Linked DNA regions of Homo sapiens: regions 2 and 3 are each linked to region 1. A link means that fine-mapping ties the variant in region 1 to the expression of a gene that starts in the linked region. Tissue or cell type: whole blood. Region 1 holds a variant in brackets; each other region holds the start of a gene. Each region is shown on its reference strand, or each on the opposite one. Region 1 overlaps HMGXB3 (HMG-box containing 3). Region 2 holds the start of PHPT1 (phosphohistidine phosphatase 1). Region 3 holds the start of CTNND1 (catenin delta 1).

Evidence for each region. PIP is the estimated chance that this variant, and not a neighbour inherited with it, causes the effect. A credible set is the group of variants that fine-mapping cannot tell apart.
Region 2: it holds the start of PHPT1, and the variant in region 1 is the best candidate, but not a certain one, in a credible set for the expression of PHPT1 in whole blood (TOPMed, PIP 0.64).
Region 3: it holds the start of CTNND1, and the variant in region 1 is the best candidate, but not a certain one, in a credible set for the expression of CTNND1 in whole blood (TOPMed, PIP 0.85).

The regions. Positions count from the first base shown.
Region 1 is chr5:150,016,631-150,019,390 of GRCh38, reverse strand. HMGXB3 (HMG-box containing 3) reads right to left here. Exons shown (of 20, transcript NM_014983.3): 6 at 694-825. Among named protein-coding and RNA genes, the nearest start is that of HMGXB3, 17 kb to the right of the region's middle. The variant G/A (reference allele first, on the strand shown) is at 1,517.
Region 2 is chr9:136,847,743-136,850,502 of GRCh38, reverse strand. It overlaps PHPT1 (phosphohistidine phosphatase 1), which reads right to left and starts at 1,094. Exons shown (of 3, transcript NM_014172.6): 1 at 913-1,094; 2 at 366-490. The coding sequence starts at 1,072. AJM1 (apical junction component 1 homolog) reads right to left here. Exons shown (of 3, transcript NM_001080482.5): 3 at 1,702-2,760. RefSeq lists silencers at 773-852, 1,243-1,302, 1,483-1,562, 1,643-1,702, 1,923-2,152 and 1 more and an enhancer at 843-1,122.
Region 3 is chr11:57,760,540-57,763,299 of GRCh38, reverse strand. CTNND1 (catenin delta 1) reads right to left here and starts at 1,498. Exons shown (of 21, transcript NM_001085458.2): 1 at 1,181-1,498. The region is part of intron 2 of TMX2-CTNND1 (TMX2-CTNND1 readthrough (NMD candidate)); the gene reads right to left.

The DNA of each region.
Region 1 (2,760 bases):
GATACCAAGGTCATTAAGGAACTCACAATGTGACATAAACAGAAACATTGTTAACTGATGATGAGTGTTAAATAAAAATGTTAAAGACATATAGATACAGACATCTCTATATACAGACGGGGGGATGACAGAAACAAGTAAATAAACATGGTGTAGTAGTTCATGGAAATTATGAAACAGGTACTATTTTGAAGACTATTTAAAGGCATGATATGTTAAATTAAAAAAAGCAAAATATTATAGTATTGGAGATATCCACGAAAAAACAGAAAGAAAAATAAAAGGGAAAACAGTGCTCACAGTGCTGTAATCCCAGCACTTTGGGAGGCCGAGACAGGAGACTGTTTGAGGCCAGAGCAACAAAGGAAGACCCCATCTCTACTGGAAAAAAAAAAGAAGGGAAAGAAGAAGAAAAAAACAGATACAGAACTTATTCACAGAAAAAAAGACTGGAAAGAAGTACACCAAAATGTTAATAATGGCTTTTCTTTGGATGGTATATGAGTTTGGATAACAATTTATTCCATTTTTCTTTTGTATTTTTTAAACAAACTATATACAATGGAAATGATTTACTTGTATAGTCAGACAGTAAAAACAAATGTTAACTTTTTAAAAATCACCTGTTCCTAATGGCAAACAGAAAGTCTATTCTGTGAGGCTTCCAAAGCAGCAACAGCCAATGGACCTTACCTTTGGGATCCACTTCCCTCCTAGGAAGTTACCACAGGTAGGGCACTTAGGTGGCTTGTGCCTGGTGACATATGTAAAGGAGCACCCTGGGCTGGTGCATGTCCCATGGCCCCGGCGGGTATATGTAGTGGTCTGTAAATAAAGAGCACATCAGAATCAATAGAACAACCTCTCTCAGACTGATGACCACTATAATCACAGCAACACCAGGAGGTCACAAGCTTGTGGAAAGATAACCAATTCATAATCATATCATAAAAGGTCAGTGTTGGAAAGGTCCTACAATACAACAAATTCACTCTTTAGAAATGGAGAAACTAAGTTCAAATGGGGAAAGACAATTGCCCAACATTACAGTTAGGTACCAGAAGAATGAAGAAAGTGATAGTTGCTATGCATTGAGCTAGGCACCACACAATGCTAAACACTTTACCAATATTTCATTTAATACTCTCAGCAATCGTATTAAGTACGTATTATTACTACTGAGGTTTAAATGCTTTGCCTCAAATCATCAATCAAGGGCAGAGCTAGACCTAGAACCCATATTTCTCTATTCTTGGCCCAACATTCCTTCTATGCATCCAGCTGCACCCTCTGGCTCTAAATACTTCAAAGAATTTGCTTCATCTTCATTCTTCAGACAACCAAGGACCTGGGATTCAGAATAAAAATAGATCCATGGTCACTGAAAAAATAAGGGCAGTTCAGGACTATAAGCCAGGCCCTATCCTTTGATACTCAACAGAATGTAGTTATTTGCATATTAATATATATAGCCACTGGCTCTTATCATCTCCACTGATCTCCCTTTGAGCAAAAT[G/A]TATTACTATGGGTTATAATATTTCAGCTACAAATAAAAACGACTCATTCATTAGTCATGCTCCGCTTCTAGATTAAGGCTGGAAAAAAACCCATTTCTCTGTCATATTTGTTCTGTCACATATGAATGTTTACTCAGCTATTAATCCCAGCTTCCCTAGCCCAGCCAAAACGCAAAAAGCTTCCTTGGGGAAACACCAAACTACCATTAGCTACCTCTGCAAGGAAGCCTAAGGAAAAGGCTTCAATTATGGCTTCCAATTATGACAGTGGTATTAAGTCAAGGATGAGCGTGAAGTGGTATGGCACCAAAAAGAGGAAGACCAGGCTTTGGGTTCCAATTTTGCCACTAATACACTGAGTGACCTGGTGGTAAGGAACCTTAACTCTTGGGCCCTGAGTTTCTTCCTCTGTAAAATCGCCTGTTCTTCCTATTTTATAGGCGTGTCTTGCTGAGAAAGTGAGATAAGAAATGAGAAAACATTCACTTAGATTCTACATGCTTGTGAGAGACTATTAATAGTGGAATATAAAACATCTCTGATCCTTTCTCAGGTTATGGCCAATGTATAATTCTCATTCTGAACACCTCAAGAAAGCAGAGTAAAAATTTAAGATAGGTTAGTTTCATAAGTAAATTACCATGGACTTGGAAATTCTTAACATTGTTAAGTAGGCTAGAGAAATGACTTTAGGAAAAAAAGTGCTAATGTTCAAGGATGACGTTTCAGTCCTAAGTATTAATCATAAAACACTTTTCTAGAAGTGCTTGGCTGACATTTATTAGAGCATGAAAGAACAGTAATTTCCAGGAGAATAAAGACTCAGGAGAAATAACCAGTTTCTCCATGAGTCAAAGCTGCAGGCTGTTCCTATTTTAAAATATTGCAGCTTTATTATCTACAACATATTGTTTATCTCAGTAGAGATCTCTGAAGATAAACTTATAAGTTAAAAATATGTACTTTAGCCCTAAAGAAACTACTAAAATAACCAAAACAAAGTCAATAGCTAATAAGCCAATAAAAGAAAGCAGATCCATAAAAAATACTTATATCAGAAGAAGGCAGAACAAAATTGATGAGACAAATAATAATAGATCTAAATGTAACCATATCAATAATCACATTAAATATAAATGGCTTAAACCACCTCTTTTAAAGACAGAGACTGTCAGAGGGTCTTGCTTTTATATTGAAACTATATGCTATCTACACAAAGCAGAACAAAACAAAAACACTTTAT
Region 2 (2,760 bases), not on the chromosome of region 1:
CTGGTGGTTTTTGTGAAGAGCACAGGTGGGGACTCTGAGCTCCACCCAGGTACTGACTGCCTCTGGGGGCCCAGGGCCCAAAGTGCTGGAGGACAGCTAGAGCCCAGCAAGGCCTCCCAAGGCAGGGAGAGGAGACAGCCGGCCATGTCTGGGGGTGTCCGTCCCACCCCTCAGGTCTGGCGTGTGCTCCATGGGGGAATGCAGGAACACAATGGGCCCTGGAGGGAGGGCTCTGCCGCCGACCCTGGGAGAACCCCAGGAAGCCTGCGTGCTCAGCTGGGGCCACGGGTCAGGGCAGCAGGCTCAGGTGGGCCTCGAAGCTGGTACTGGGGCCTCCGGCAGGGCGGGACGGGGCTGCGGCTCACCATGGAATAGCCGTACACGTGAATCTTCTTGTCCTGACTCTGGTGGGAGATGCGCCCGCCGCCCAGACACTCACAGTCGCAGCCTTGCTTCTGCATGTCGCCCGACACTTTGTCGTAGATGTCCGCTGGGATGGGAGGGCGGCCTCAGGACGTGCCCTGGCCGCCCTTGGAGGCCGCGGGAGGAACTCCCAGCCGAAGGGGTCTGAAATCCCAGCTCTGAACAGCCCCTTCCCCAGGAGAGACGAAGCCCCTTGAGGCTGGGACAGGGATGAATGAGCGAAGGAGGGTGGAACCGGGGAGGGCGCGGGAACTGGGAGACTGCTGGGGAGGGTGTCAGGCCGTGTCACGCCCTTCCCGCCCAGGACCTCAGCCTGGGTCAAACCTAGCAGGGGCAGGACTCGGAGCAGAGCGCAGTCCGCTACGGCCCGCAGCCCCGCCCCCGCCCCGCCAGCCCCGCCCCTGCCTCGTCAGCCCCGTCTCCGTCCCGCCAGCCCCGCCCCCGCCTCGCCAGGCGTGCCCCTGGCATGCCCGCAGGTCCCGCCCTCACCATGGTACTCAGCCCACTTGTAGCCGCGCACGATCTCCTTGCTCTCTGCAGCCGGAGCCCCGGAGCGGGGAGCCGAGTGGACTCGGATCAGCACATACTTGAAGACGCCGTCGGAGTCGATGTCCACATCAGGAATGAGAGCGAGGTCCGCCACCGCCATGTTCCTCCTCCCGGAGTCCCCTCCTCCCACCCGACCCGGGGGCCGCTTGTACTGCGGGAGGCGGGCTCTGCGAGAGCGACGACCAATCCCGTCGGGGAATGCTTCCCAAGGCCCAGCGCCTCAGCCAATTGTACCGCCGACCGAGGCACGTGCTGACCAATCGCAATCCAGTTCCTTGCCGCCTTGCGGCTCCGCCAGCCCCGCTTAAAGGAAACGTGGAATCGGGAATGGGTGGTGATGAAATCCAGCCAACGGAGAAGTTCCTCTCCAGCGGGGTCCGGTGGCACCCTTGGAACGGGGCAGTTAGGCGGCCCGCGAGGCTGGGGCAACGAGGGAGGCCTGAGGGACTTGCCAGCCCTGACCTCCTGTCCCGCACGTAGTCCGAAGACCACCCTCCCCGTGGCCCCCACCGCCCAAAGGCCTCCCTCTCTCCCCCTCCCACCGCCCGAAGGCCTCCCCCCTCCCCGCTCTCCACCGCCCGAAGGCCTCGCTCTCCACCCCCTCCACCGCCCGAAGGACTCCCTCTCTTCCCCGTCCACCGCCCGAAGGCCTCTCCCTTTCTCCTCTCCACCGACCGAAGGCTTCCGTCCCCAACCCCGCTACCGGTACAAGGAGGCAACGGCAGCCGCTACATTCAAGTTCTATTTTACTTGGTTCGAAAGCTCTTGCCCCCTGGAAATTATTCCGGTCCAGGGGCGTTCCCGGCCGGCCCTCAGGGGTGGGGCCGAATGCAGAGGCCCTGGGGTAGGGGGCGCGGGGCGCGGCGGCGGGTGGGCAAGCGGGACGCCTGGCCGGTGCAGACGCGCGGGGACGAGATGGGCGTGCCGGGTGCGAAAGCAGGAGCGGAGGCGGGGGTGCCCAATTTCTCTCACTTGGTGCCCCCTCCCCTGGCTCCGAAGTAGGGCTGGGGACTCCAGGAGGGCCCTTGCGTTTGGCCTCCACCCCTCTCCCGCATACCCCACCCTCCAGAGAGCTCTGGGCGCGGACCAGGGTGCACTTGGGGGACAGGTGGAGGCCGGGCCGCCGGGCTTGCGCCTCCACGCCCGCAGTACGGCGTGCGGCCAGAGCGGGTGTGCGGGGACCTCTCGGGACAGGTCAAGCCCCCTCGGGTGGGCTTCCACGCTTACCAACTAGCTCTCTCCCTCACCTGCTCGCACCACGCTTTGCCCTCCAGGCTCCCACCTGGGAACGCCCCGTCCCTTGGTCCTTCCTCTCCTAGCCAGGTGTCAGCTCTGGCCAGGCCCAGGTGCTCTGCTTCCCCTGTTCAGGTCCCCTGCCCCTTCGGCTGGGAGACTTGCATATCGGCCTGAAGACCTCCCTGCGGTTTTTCCCAGCTCCTGCAGGGCCCAGACTGCAGCGGCTGGAGGCGAAGGGACGGCAGGGCGCGTGGCGTGGTTAGTGTGCTGGCTCCGACCAGCGGGAACGCACTGCGCACCGTCCGCCCTGCCCACCGCCTCGGCGGGACGCGCTCGCGCACACGGACGCACAGAGGTCGACCAGGGTGTTCTCCAGCGAGGAGGCAACACAGCCGCGGGAGGCGGGGCGGGGCGTGTTTAAAGTGACAGACTGGGCTTTGGTTACGTCGGGCTTCTGGACGAGGGGAAACCGGAGTCGGGGAGGCTCCAGCGAGAGCCCCGCGGACCGACGGGGACCGGATCTCTACGGGTGGGGTCTGTGCAGTAGTGACC
Region 3 (2,760 bases), not on the chromosome of region 1:
TTTTCAGGCGGATTCACATTTTCAAAAAGAGAAGAGAATACCCTAGTTTTTCAGCTACTGATGAGTTGGCTATATAATTATCTAGAATCCGTACTTTTGCAAGAATGTATTTGCAAAAACAAAACAAATCTTAAGATTAAATATAAGATATGAAAGCACAGTCATGGGCCTTCAGCTCTAAGAGATTTCAGATTTCATGGTAAATTAACTAAACAATAAATTCAACTCCAAAAAACAACTTTCAGGTTGGTTTAAAAATAAAAATCTCCCTTGTTTTCTGAAATGTATTTTAAACACTAAACTTTGTATAAATGGTTTTTCTAAACCTAATTTTATTCCACCCTTGGCCCTTTCAGAGTGCAAAAAGCTGAAAATATTTTCAGGTATGTTGCCACTTTACTCAGGTGAAATAAAAAGCATGATTAGAATTTCCTTATCCCTTTAAACACATAAACCAAACGTTATCGTATTTGCAGATTTAACAAACACCTCCACAAATCTTTGCTATCAAAGGTAGTTTAGAAGGAAGAAGGAGATGGCAATTCAGTTAACATGGTTCCATTTGTTTTCTTTTATAAGCCAAAGAAGGGAGACTACATCTAGCAGGAGAATGAGGCTCCCACCCACCGCACCTGGAAAAGTAAGAGGGATCCACCCAGGAACAGCAGGGCTGAAACCGATACGGGCCGTTCAAACTCTCTGGGGGAAAAACAATACCATTTACACTGCAAAGCTCCCTGCAACTTTCCACTTCCACAAATCCAATGATAAAAGAAAAAAAAAGTTTTAAACATATGAAGAACCATCGGTATAACTGGGTTCCGACACGGACAAATTTCTTTCCCAACCCACATGCAACATGCCAAAAAACCAACTTTTGATTTGGGCTCTGAAAACAGAAATATGTTAGCTTAATCCAGAAAAATAAATAAATAAAATCAAAGAACACACCAAAATGTAAATTTTCAAACCTGCTCTTACCCCTCTGGATCTATTCAGCTTCCTGTATTAAAGAGACCTAGAAGTTTGTTTCTAGGTCTTGTATATTTTACCTTTTTAAATATAATAAAATACCAAAATCTCCCCCGCCAAAGTACTGAAAGTAGAAAAGAAAAATAATTGCTTAAAAGTTACTCATCAGCATAACAGACTCTCCCGTTTTTTAATTCCCTCCGGTTACCGTAAGACAAAAATTCGACTTGCTTATCCTCCTTTTCCCGTCAGTACATACATTTTCTTCAAAAGCCACACACCTCAAATGTGGAGTTCTAAAAATCAGTCCTTTAAGAAAGAAACCCAAGGCTTCGCCAAGGTGCTGAGAAAGACAAATCCAGCAGGGCAGTTGATTTTTCGCCACCTCTTCCTCCTTTCGGGATCTTTCCTGCTCTTCTTTCTCTCTCTCTCCCTCTCTCTTTTTTTTCCCCCTCAGATCCAACACCTAAAATGGAAGTTGCACCCAGCCAAAGGCAAGGGAGCCTGGGTGGTGACAAACTGATCTGGCAGCCCTACCCCCTTCGCTTTCCTAAGTGATGTCAGCCCCTGTGAGCTTCCAATAGGAACCAGGCATAAATCAGGGAGCTGACCTTATCCAATAGGAAACTTTATTATAGAAAATTAAAAAAAAGAGAGGAGAGAAAGACAGGGGGAAGTTTATACATATATATATTTATATTTATATATTTATATTTAAAGTGGAGAGACTGTACAATCTCTGAGGAATTACTGCAGAGCTGAGGGGGGCGGAAGAGGCAAGGGAGACAAGGAACAAGGGCTTTTTAGAATGGTACGCCTAAGTCTCAGTTCTCTTTGATGATGAGTTCTTGCTCCCTCTTCTGTACTATCCCAGTGGGGAAATAGAAAAGAGCTGATTTTACTTGCCTGCTGCTGTTTGGTTTGTTGCTTCCTACCCCAAAGCATTTCCCTAAAGGAAGACGGGAAAGAAAGGAGAGAGAAATCCTAAAAACAGGACTACTATATGTTGACTGGGATGGTAGGGGATATCTGAGGTAAACTCAGTTTCACTGTTTTGGATTAATTGCATTAGAGCTATTTTTTTTTTTTTTTTTTGAGATGGAGTTTCGAGCCCAGGCTGGAGTACAATGGTGCGATCTCAGCTCACCGCAACATCCGCCTCCCAGGTTCAAGCGATTCTCCTGCCTCAGCCTCCCGAGTAGCTGGGATTACAGGCATGTGCCACCATGCCCAGCTAATTTTGTATTTTTAGTAGAGACGGGGTTTCTCTATGTTGGTCAGGCTGGTCTCGAACTCCTGACCTCAGGTGATCCACCCGCCTCGGCCTCCCAAAGTGCTGGGATTACAGGCGTGAGCCACCACGCCCCATCTAGAGCTATTTTTTTTTTTAATGCCTAGACTTGTTAACAGTTTTAATCTCCATACTTTGAATTAGAAGGAAGCAGAATCCACTGGGCTGTTAAAGAAAATCACTGTCTTCCCAATTTGTCCCCAAATCAAAATAATGTGGGTTTGTTGGAAAGAGGAAATGAAATCCAATAAACAAGCAATATATTTAGAGGGAATAACAGCATAGGTAAAGAAAGTAAATCTCATGTCAAGAACATTTTATGCCGGGCGCGGTGGCTCACGCCTGTAATCCCAGCACTTTGGGAGGCCAAGGTGGGCGGATCACCTGAGGTCAGGAGTTCGAGACCAGCCTGATCAACATGGAGAAACCCTGTCTCTACTAAAAATACAAAATTAGCTGGGCGTGGTGGTGCATGCCTGTAATCCCAGCTACTCGGA